3 linked regions of the Homo sapiens genome follow. The protein of the gene in region 1 purifies or fractionates together with the protein of each later gene. This does not show direct contact. Each region holds a gene or a part of one and is shown in the gene's direction. Other genes may lie near its edges.

Region 1 (2,992 bases):
CTCGGTCACTCATTGAGAAAATTTACACAGACTCTGAATCCAGTTCCTGTCATCTTCAGATGTTGGTTTATTGACATCACAGTAAAAAGGCTACTGTCGACTGGACACAGTGGCTCACACATGTAATCACAGCACTTTGGGGGGCCAAGGTGGGTGGATTGCTTAAGCCCAGGAGTTCAAGACCAGCCTGGGCAACATGGCTAAACCCCATCTCTACAAAAAAAATTAGCTGGGTGTGGTGGTACATACCTGTAGTCCCAGCTACTCAGAAGGCTGAGGTGGGAGGTTCACTTGAACCTGGGAGGTTGAGGTTGCAGTGAGCACAGATCACACCACTGCACTCCAGCCTGGGCAACAGAGTGAGACCCTATTTCAAAAAAAGGCTGCTTTCACTGTACTGCTGCAGCAGTCTCTTCAGGTAGCTAAATTAGGAGCTTGTTTTGGAGAAATGAAGCAAAGGTGAATGACAGCCTAGGCTTGAAATTATAAAGCTCTCTCAGGTTGAACTCTCTCGTGCGCTCTCGCTCTCACTTTCGCCCTGTACCTGAGAGCACAGGTGTAACTGTGATGTCATAGTGCCGAGACTACTTTCCTTTAACCATTGGGGTTAAGTTGGGCAGCCCATTTAGTTTACACGCGCATAAGACTAATTTACAAAATCACTCTATACAGTCATTAGATGTAACATCCTTCCCTGAGTAGAAAGTAATGCATGTGTTTGGAGATTATTTTCTGTAATGCTGGGAACAAACCTGTTTTAAAAGCACACTGCTAAAAGTAGGTGATATAAGACCATTTGCTGTTTTTATTAAAGTATGTGTGTGTATCAGTGTCTCAATGTGAAGATTGTAACCTCAAGATTAGGAATCTTAAAAGAGCCACTTAGCCTGAATGGGAAACGTGAGACTATTTTTAAACACACACCTCTAAGGAAGAAGCCTCCCATATAGACTTGATCTCAAAGAAGCAGATAAGAAGACAGAAAAGTGTTTTAAGTGTAAGATCTCCTATGGAGTACTTTAAATTCATTTATACAAATGAATAAGTGTATCTTTGTATAATGCATAAATACATAGATAAAAACATGTTTGCTGCCAAAGTTCCCAATAAGATGCTTCCTGTGTTTTTTGGCCTTTACTTAGCTGAATGATCAAAGTTCAGAAAATGGTCTGCAAAAGTTACTCCATATACAACCCCAAATCTACTACTTTAAATGTAACATCAACTCAGTTGTATGAATCTGGAGTGTAATATTTATATTAGAATGTATATGTCATTTAAAATATTTTGAAAGCCCTCATAAATATTTATATTTACTAAACTAATAGCATAGACACTATATAAATCCGCAGTGATGCTTATATATCTTAAATTAGTAATAATGGGTGCTATATAATTATTTTCAGTTACTATCCCTGACACTCTGGAATCTTCTCCATTTCTCCCTATCACTCAATTTCATTTTAATCATTGGACACCTTTGCGTTTTGCTGCTAACAGTGTGTGTATGTCACCCTCTTTATATCTGGTTTTCCCACTTGTCTGAAGCTCTCCTGATCTTAGAACCTGGAGCTGCAGATTCCTCCATGTCAGCTCCCATCACGGCCCCAAAGACAGAGTCACTTGGTTGCTGAGTCACTTGGTTGCTGGAAAAATCTTTGGGGAAAGCTGGTATAAGCTACACACTGACCTGTCCCCAGTGTTTCCAGGTAATGACTTGGCACTCCAGAGAAAGTTTCATGCTGTTGCGTGTGGTGGCTCCAAGCCAAGCACCTGGCATGCAGGTCAGCCCTTCCCAGCGGGCGTGGCGTCGTCCTCTTCACAGATGCCACGTTGCAGCCCCAAGGCCTCACCATTTTGCGTTTTTTAGAAACCCATTTTCTTGGTCATTTATAAAGCTGCTTTATAGATATCTTTGATCCTGGCATGCCTTGGTTTCCTCTCCCTTCCCTCTTTCCAATCCTGGTTTCCTAACCTCCTCTTGTAGTAATTCTCAACTCAACTCAAAGTCCCAAGAATTTGGAATGGTAGGATGCTGTGCGGGGAGCTCGAGGCTGAGGCATAATCACTGCTTCGGTTCTGCTCATCAGGGGACACGCTCCCTTACTCATGGCAGCCATGTTTGATTGTCACAGAGCCCCCCGAATACTCTGTCTATAGTGACACACTGTAGGTGTCATAAATTTTAAGAAACCTGCTTTTAAGTACTATTTATAGGTTTTTCTGTTATACTTGCAACCTAGTTTTAAAATACATGAGGATTTTATGAAAGCTTTATACAGACATTTATAGGAAACTCATTCTTTGATTTTAGGTGCCATTTAAATTGATAACACTTACTTTATAAAAAGATGCTTTTTGTCTGGATAGAGCCTTATAGTTTAAAATATCTTCATATATTGCCATTTGATCAAATAAATTTCTTACTTAGAAAATGTGTGTATTTTTTATTTCATTCCTCTTACATATATCTAGCTTGTTCGAATGTCATGCCCAAAGGCCAAGGTTGTGGGGATGGGCCTGGTGCAGGCCATTGTATTCTGAGCAGACCAGCAGGGGCGGTGCTTGTGGGTCGGTCATACCTGACTTCAAAGGTCCTGCCATCTTGGCTGCTTTGACTGTGAAAAAAAAAAATGGCCAGAAGGCAGTGTAGACAGTGTTGACTAGATGCAGCAATGGAGAAGCCTTCAGAGTTTTATTGATGGGACTTAGTGGGCTTCAGCTTTTTTTCTATTGCATCTGAACATTCACTCCCTTCTAGTTTCCTAAGATTCAACAATATGAGGAGTCACATGAAGGAGTCAGAAAACCTCCCTGGATCTGTTCTGTGGTGGATGAGGGGGACAGTCTTTCTATTCTTTGAGAAACCCACGTTTTCTCCCATCAGCTGTCCTAGATATTGGAATGGAAACTTGACAGCCCATCTTTTGGCCTTGAGTGGCAAGTCCTTGGCATCTAACACACCCACCCTAGTCAGCCTCAATGATAGGCC
Region 2 (3,656 bases), on another chromosome or scaffold:
GCATTTCTGCTGTGTTCCCTTTAGGAAGAAGCAATGACTATAGAATAGCTAAACAAACCTCAGGTTATGTCCAATTTCCTATACCTTCTGTATCTTCAGCTCTGGACAGTGATCACTAAAGGTCACCAACCAAAACAAGAAGTGAAACAAACAAAAGGGGGCTTTCTGCTTAACTCAGTTTCCTAAAATATTCAATTTACCAGAAAAGCTCCTCTAATCTTTCTGTTTAATTTATATTTCAATGCACCTTTAAGTAGGAGGCAACAAGAAAGTGTTTAAAGGAAAGGAGAGACTATATCCTCTACTCTGCTGTTTGATTCCCCTTTGTGCATCACAGCACAAGGTTGGAAAAACTGTAGTAGAAAGAGCACTAAACTGGAACTCAGGGGACTTGACTTTTAGACCTTGTTTTACTAATTTCTTGTTTTGTGGCCCTAGGCAAAGGGGTTAAGTTTTTTGTACTCTCATCAGCAAAATGAGAATAATAATCCTTCTAATAAATTAGCACTATTAGTGCCCAAAATGACCATAGAAGGGGATGCTGAGTGACCTGCATAGAAAGGGTGTTCCAAAGGTGTCAGACTGAGGCTAGGGCAAATACAAGAACATTTGGCAGACTCTCCCACACACCAGCAAGCTTTCTTAAGTTTTTAGTGGCAGAGTCACTGCTGGCCCATTTATTCATTAACCCCCCATAAGGGATGGCAATAACATACATGGGAAATCGAAAAGAACTTGATAAATGCAAGATGGTGGTGGTCATAGTGCTTATTTATATAAAGTGACATGATATCCATCATGTGTCTATCAACGTGTGGCATGTAATAGTAAGTGGTAGCTCTCTACCTCTCCTTCAAATTACTCAATGGATGTTTCATCTGTGTAGCTGTAACCTCTGAGTTGTTAATCTCTAATTCAGGGAAATTAATTAAACATTATATCAATAGGTGCTATTCTGAGACATAGCTAGCTTGTCCATAAATGATTGAATTGACTATTTAATTGCCTACTTGACCTGTTTATGGACTCTTGCCCTTGTTTTCGTAATTCAGGGGCTTAAACACCTAGCTTAGCCCAGGTGGCTTTTGAAGGTTTCCCTAATGCCTCCCTCCCCAGAACCATGGCTCCTACTAATAATAAGGACCACATTGTAGTCCTGACCCATTTAGGTCCTTTGGCCTGTGATGGTTATTGCGGTTTCCAGAGGCTGATAACATGCTGAGCCTGTTTTATCCTCTACTAAGCTGTCTGTGTCCTTTTGCCCCAGAATGCCGAGTCATGAAGGGAAACCCATCAGCCACAGCTGGCCCAAAGGCATCCCCAACACCTCAGAAGACTTCAGCCAAGAGCCCTGGTCCTATGCGCCGAAGCAAGTCTCCAGCTGACTCAGGTAACGACCAAGACGGTGAGTGCTCTTTTCCTAACTGTGCACGCTGACTTCATTTATGGAGGACAATACTTTCTGCATGCAGAGGAATCAGTTCCTCATGAACACCACTGTGTCTCCATGAAACCCTATTCTATCAATTCAGGGACTAAAACAGTCAAACTTGTTTGGAGTCATGGAGGCACAGCTACAACCATTATTCCATTCAAATGGATGCAAACCAGAAGCCTGGCCCATTGTCTATGCTTGCTGTAATGTTTATTTTCATGGTTGTCATCATTTTCATCATCTTCAACATCATGTGGCAAAAACATATTCAATGGAATAATCAAATTAACCATAAACCTGAAATTAAAAATCAGAATCAAGAAAAAGAATATAAAAAACAACACCCCAAAGTGTCAACATAGTTGACTCACTTGAGCTTCAAATTTGACTCTGAAGTAATTAGAAGCCAAAACAAAAAGGGAAACAAGTACACTACATATATATGCCATATAAATAGGGGGACAAGATAAATTGTATAAACCTCACAACCGGAAAGTAAAGCACAGACCAGGTTCTAAAAGAAAACAAAGAGATTTGCCATAGAAGATTCTATTTAGTGGATAGTGAGTTATCTAAAACATGTCGTCTATTGATCACTGCCAACCCATGAACTATTTATTACCAGTCAGTCTGTGGCAAGATTAGGAGCTTGTGCCAAATGTAAATAAACTATGCCATTAAGCAAACCATTTAGCTCAGCTGCCTTTTTTTCAGAGCCTGATTTTATTGATGAAGGCAGCAGTATGTTGATTTGCATTCTGATGTGAACCCTATCTTGTCTTGGACCCACAGTTTGAGTGACACTGATCTAAGAGGCAATGTCTTCCATTCTTTTATAACAAATATCAAAAATAAAAGGCCTTAGAAGTCCAAGTTCAGAAGCTTAGATTTATGCACAATTTGAGGTTCTTCACACTAAGGAAACTATATGGTCCAAAATACTTATACATTTGTCATCCCAAGGCTCAGAATTTATCATGAGAATTCTTGCAGTCTGAGAGCCTTGGGAAAACAAAAGGGCCCTTCAGTTTGGGGCATCATGAGTAGCCTGATGGCTATGAAATGCTGGTGCCAAGATGAATAGCCTGTACTGCCTGCATCAGACTGCCAGGAGCATGCATATTACCAGCCATCTCTTTATTCTTGGGTTGAGGAAATTAAAGTATGAAAAGGCAACCCAGGCTTTTAGTACTTCCATGTCTTTGCACTCCCTGTTCCCCCATACCTGGAATGCCATCCTCTAACCCATCAGCCTTTTTTGCTTGAAAACTCCTATTCATCCTTCAAGACCTCACATAGAGATAATTGTTCCAGTCTCTGCAATACCATAGCATGCCATTCATATCTTTGGGGTAATATTCACCACACTGTGTTGTCAAGTATGTGTTTACCTGTCTACTTCCCCAATTAAATGCTGAGCCCCTCAAAGGTAATGTGGTAGGTTCATTTTCATATCATCAGTGCAGAGCATAGTGCCTGGCCCCTAGTAGATGCTCCAGTAATATTTGTGAATAAATAGATGCACAACAGTACCTATTTTACCCAACATGGTGCTAGAGACCAATCAAGCATTTAGATAATGTTTGCTGAAGAAATAAAAAATACATGTGCCTTGATGCTATCTTGTTCAAATGTACAGAAGAGCACATAAATCTATATCTAAGCAAATTTATATTGCTGAAACTACAAAGACCTAGGTTTTAACACCTGGGCTGAGAATAAAATTTGACAGTTTTTAAGCAGAGAATTGCAAAAAATACACTTTAAAACACTTGGTCAAGATTAATAAAGTCTGGCAATAATTGCTTAGCTAATCATTTCTCAGAAACAGCAGTAGCTATTTCTGGGATTTCTAACCTGTATTACTTGTATCCTGCTGTGAAACAAATTCATTACCCCAAAACTTAGTGGCTTAAAGAAAAGGCATTTTTTTTTTATCTCACAGTTTTGGTGGGCAAGAAATTCTAGAGTGTTTTATCTAGGTGGTTCTGGCTCAGAGTCTCTCATGTGGGTATCATTAAAATATTAGTAGGGGCTGCAGTCATCTGAAGGCTCAACTGGGGCTGTAGGATCCACTTACAATATGGCTGTTGGCAAGATCTCCTACCTTAGTTTGTGATCCAAGAGAATGAATAAAGAACAAGATGTATTGCCTTTTGTGATCTAGTCTCCATAGCCAACACTGTCACTTCTCCTTTATTATATTCATTGGAAGCAGTCA
Region 3 (3,656 bases), on another chromosome or scaffold:
GTGCCTTAGCCTCCCAAGTAACTGGGATCACAGGTGCACACCTAGCTAATTTTTGTATTTCTAGTAGAGACGGGGTTTTGCTATGTTGGTTAGGCTGGCCTTGAACTCCTGGCCTCAGGTGATCCACCCACCTCGGTCTCCCAAAGTGCTGGGATTATAGGCATGAGCCACTGTGCCCGACCATGGAACATTTCTTACTTATCTGGCCACACTTGCTCTGAGGTCTGCAATGAGACTGACTAGTGAGATTGTGTCACCATCCCTCCTCACTGCTGCATCTCCTGGTTGTATTTTTCTTGGGGCATTTGCCACTCTTTAAAACCATCTTCTTTACTCATTGGTGCACCAGCTTATCTGCCTCCCTCCCCAAAGGGTGTCAGATCCACAAAAAGGCAAGAGCAAACAGTGTCTGTCTTGTTTAGGGCCATGTCCCAGCACTTAGAACAGTGCCTGGCACATTGTAGGTGCTCAGTAAATCCTTGTGTGAGGAATGACTGCACCTGCCCCTCTTTGCAGCCTCCTGTTAAATGAGTCTGTGATGTTGAGTGATGGATCCTGGGAGAATTACGAGCTTGCCCTCTTGAGTCTCTGGAGGGATCTCTGGCTTACCATACTGAGTGCTGGAAGGAGCATGGCCTTGCTGACAGCTGGATTTCAAACTTGTAGCCTACAGAACTGTGAGAGAATCTAAGCCATCCAGTGTGTGGTGCTCAACTAGCCCATGGCCAACCAGAGTTTGAAACCCAGTAGCTCAGCTCCCAGCATTCACTGCACTCTTACAATACACTTTTCTCAGGTTGGGCATGTCTCTGAAAGACTGATGGGAGAGCCGGGCGTGGTGGCTCACACCTGTAATCCCAGTACTGAGGGAGGCCAAGATAGTCAGACCACTTGAGCCCAGGAGTTCAAGACCAGCCTGGGCAACATGGCAAAAACCCGTCTTTACCAAAATAAAAAATAAACAAAATTAGCTGGGTGTTGTGGTGCATGCCTGTAGTCCCAACTACTTGGGAGACTGAGGTGGGAGGATTGCTTGAGCCCAGGAGGTCGAGGCTGCAGTGAGCCATGATTGTGCCACTGTACTCCAACCTCGGTGAAACAGTGAGACCATGTCTCAAAAAAAAAAAAAAAAAAAGACTTGGGGTCCAACCAAAGGAAAGAGGGATTGCAGGAGTTGTCTGCTGGGAGTTGGGCATATTCCCTCCTGTGTTTTAGAGAGGGGACAGCCAGGGCACATCAGGCAGGCCAGATATCCTCAGCTCCTGATAAGACACAAAAGCCTGCAGGGATACAGTAGAGTTGTAGGGAGAATGGGCTTCTGAACCACACTAGGCATGTCCACACCACAGGGCCTTTACACATGCTGGGGAACAGGTAGAGGAAACAGCGCATGCAAAGGCCCTGTGGTGGGGACATGCCTAGCTTGGTTCAGGAGCCCATTCATTCATTCATTCAAAAATATTCACTGAGTACCTGCTGGGCACCAGCTATGGCTGGGATACAGCCATGAACGAGAGAGACCAATGCCTTGCTCTCCTGGGGCTCCTGGTCTATTAACATCCCAGCTCAAATGTGGCCTCCTCCACACTGCCCTATCACAATCACTTCACCCTGCTTTATTCTCTTTATGACATTTTCCACTCTCTGAGATTTCCTGCCCTTGTCATTTGCTCACCTCTCTGTTCCCCCAACTCCATCCCGAACTCCTATGCCCAGAGCCTGAGTGTGTCTTGATCATGGTTGCCCCTCCAGCACACAGCAAAGTCCCTGGTCCAGAGGAACTGCTTAAGAAACATCTGTTGAACAACCAAATGGATGGCTGCATGGTGAGGGAAGCTCTCCTGGAAGGTGGAGACCCAAAGTCCCAAGTGAAAGAGGGATTACATCTGTGCACAACCCTCTTCAGTGTACCAGCTTTTCACTGCTGCCTTAAGAACATCATGAAGAAAGTAGTGGGGACAGCTCTAGTTAGCAGCAGCTCCATTTCCTGTATGAAGAAACTGAGGCTAGAGAGGTTAGGACACATGGCCCAGGTTGCATAGGGAATGGGTGACTTTCTCCAGCACACCTCAGTCCCTTGGGTGGGCAGGCAGTGGCAGCAGGTGACGTCCCACCCAGGGGACCTCACATCCTCCACCTCCCCAGCCCCCAGTCTTTCAGTCCTAGGCAAATCCACCTTCTCTCAGACGTACAACTTTCCCCATTCCCTCCTCCATGGGAGTCCCCTGCCCTCTGAGCCTGGCCAGATCCACTCCCAAGGTCCCCTAAGTACTCAGAGTCTCCGGAGAGCCACAGCACTCCGTGCCTATCCCCATGTGGAGCTTCCTGGGAGGCCGGAGGGGAAGGAGCTGAGGCCCAGGAGGGAGGAGTGGCAGGAGAGGACAAAACCCAGTCCCTAGACTCACAGGAAGTACAGTGGAGGCTGCCTCTCAGCCTGCTAGGTCAGCCCCTATAAGTGACACAAACCTTCCAGTGCAGGATGAGCTGAACCTGGGGCCTGGGAGGGTGGGGGTGGGGGTGTCCCAAGGGAAGCCACCTCCCCTAAGAGCCAGAGCTTAGTGATTAAGCGGGCACTACAGAGAATGACCTCCCTCTGAATGTGGTCTGGTGGAAGCTGGGGGTCCCCAGGGGGGCCTCAGGGCCAACCCCTGCTGCAGCCTCCTCGCCATGCTGTCTGCATCTGTATTTATCCCCGTAATGGCCTGGCTGCCTGTTGGAGTGTGGTGTCTTTGGAGCACAGCAGCCGGTGCCGTAGCCTCGGTGCAGAAATGATTTGTGTCAAGGTGCCGCCCCCACCTGGTCAGGAGTGCCAGCCTGCTCCCCGGGGGCTGCCTGTCGCCTGGCAGGAGCTGGTGCAGCAATGGGCATGCGGCAAGGGCCCCAGAGAATAAGGCTTGTGGCTGGACCCTGCCCACCAGAACCAGGATGCAGGATGTTGGGGCAGCCAGGCTGTGGCCAGGGTTCCTGTGTGGCTGGAAAGTGGGGCCAGATAAACTCTAAAGTCTTTTAGCTCTGAGACTCAAAGAACTCATGACTCTGAAATCCCAGAATTCCCAAATTCTGGAATTCTGTGAACCTCTAGTCCCGGGCCTCTACAATTCCAAGATGTTATGGTTCCTCTTCCTCTCACCTTTTCACTCTTCCTCATTTTCAACAAACTTGTGTCGAGCTTCCATTCTGTGCCTCTGGGTGTTGGGAGCAACGAAATGGAAACAGGGTTTGGTTCCATCTTTAAGCTCCAGTGAGGGCGACGCTTCTAAGCCAATGGTTACAGTATGCTGATATTGTAAGTGATTCCCTCTCAAGGACCAGGGAAATAGGAAGGGCTTTGTAGAGGAGTCCCTGGATTATTGGTTTTGGTGTTTTTTGTTTTTTGTTTTACCACATTGAAGTGTAACATGAAATAGAGCAGACATTCTACATGGACCAGTCAATGACTGTTCACAAACCAACATATCTGGGTCACCAGAACCCAGATCAGAAACAGACACGACCAGCACCAAAGCCCCCGGTGTCCCCTTCTTGTCAGTAACACCCGTCCACGTGTCCTACTGCTATCCTGACTTCCAGCAGCATAGATTTGTTTTGTCCATGTTTAAGGGCACCTAAGTGAAATCATATAGGATGACATACTCCTTTCTCTCTGGCCCCCTTCA

Evidence for each region.
Region 2: the proteins of POPDC1 (region 1) and DCX purify together in Homo sapiens (affinity purification with mass spectrometry; one large-scale study listed by BioGRID and IntAct). This does not show direct contact.
Region 3: the proteins of POPDC1 (region 1) and CPNE2 purify together in Homo sapiens (affinity purification with mass spectrometry; one large-scale study listed by BioGRID and IntAct). This does not show direct contact.

What each region holds. Positions count from the first base shown.
Region 1 is NC_000006.12:105,096,265-105,099,256, reverse strand, and holds the end of POPDC1 (popeye domain-containing protein 1), read left to right. Parts: 3' UTR 1-2,435; downstream 2,436-2,992. UniProt on the Homo sapiens protein: Cell adhesion molecule involved in the establishment and/or maintenance of cell integrity. Involved in the formation and regulation of the tight junction (TJ) paracellular permeability barrier in epithelial cells.
Region 2 is NC_000023.11:111,328,653-111,332,308, reverse strand, and holds part of DCX (neuronal migration protein doublecortin), read left to right. Parts: intron 1-1,267; coding exon 1,268-1,405; intron 1,406-3,656. UniProt on the Homo sapiens protein: Microtubule-associated protein required for initial steps of neuronal dispersion and cortex lamination during cerebral cortex development. May act by competing with the putative neuronal protein kinase DCLK1 in binding to a target protein.
Region 3 is NC_000016.10:57,095,583-57,099,238, forward strand, and holds part of CPNE2 (copine-2), read left to right. Parts: intron 1-3,656.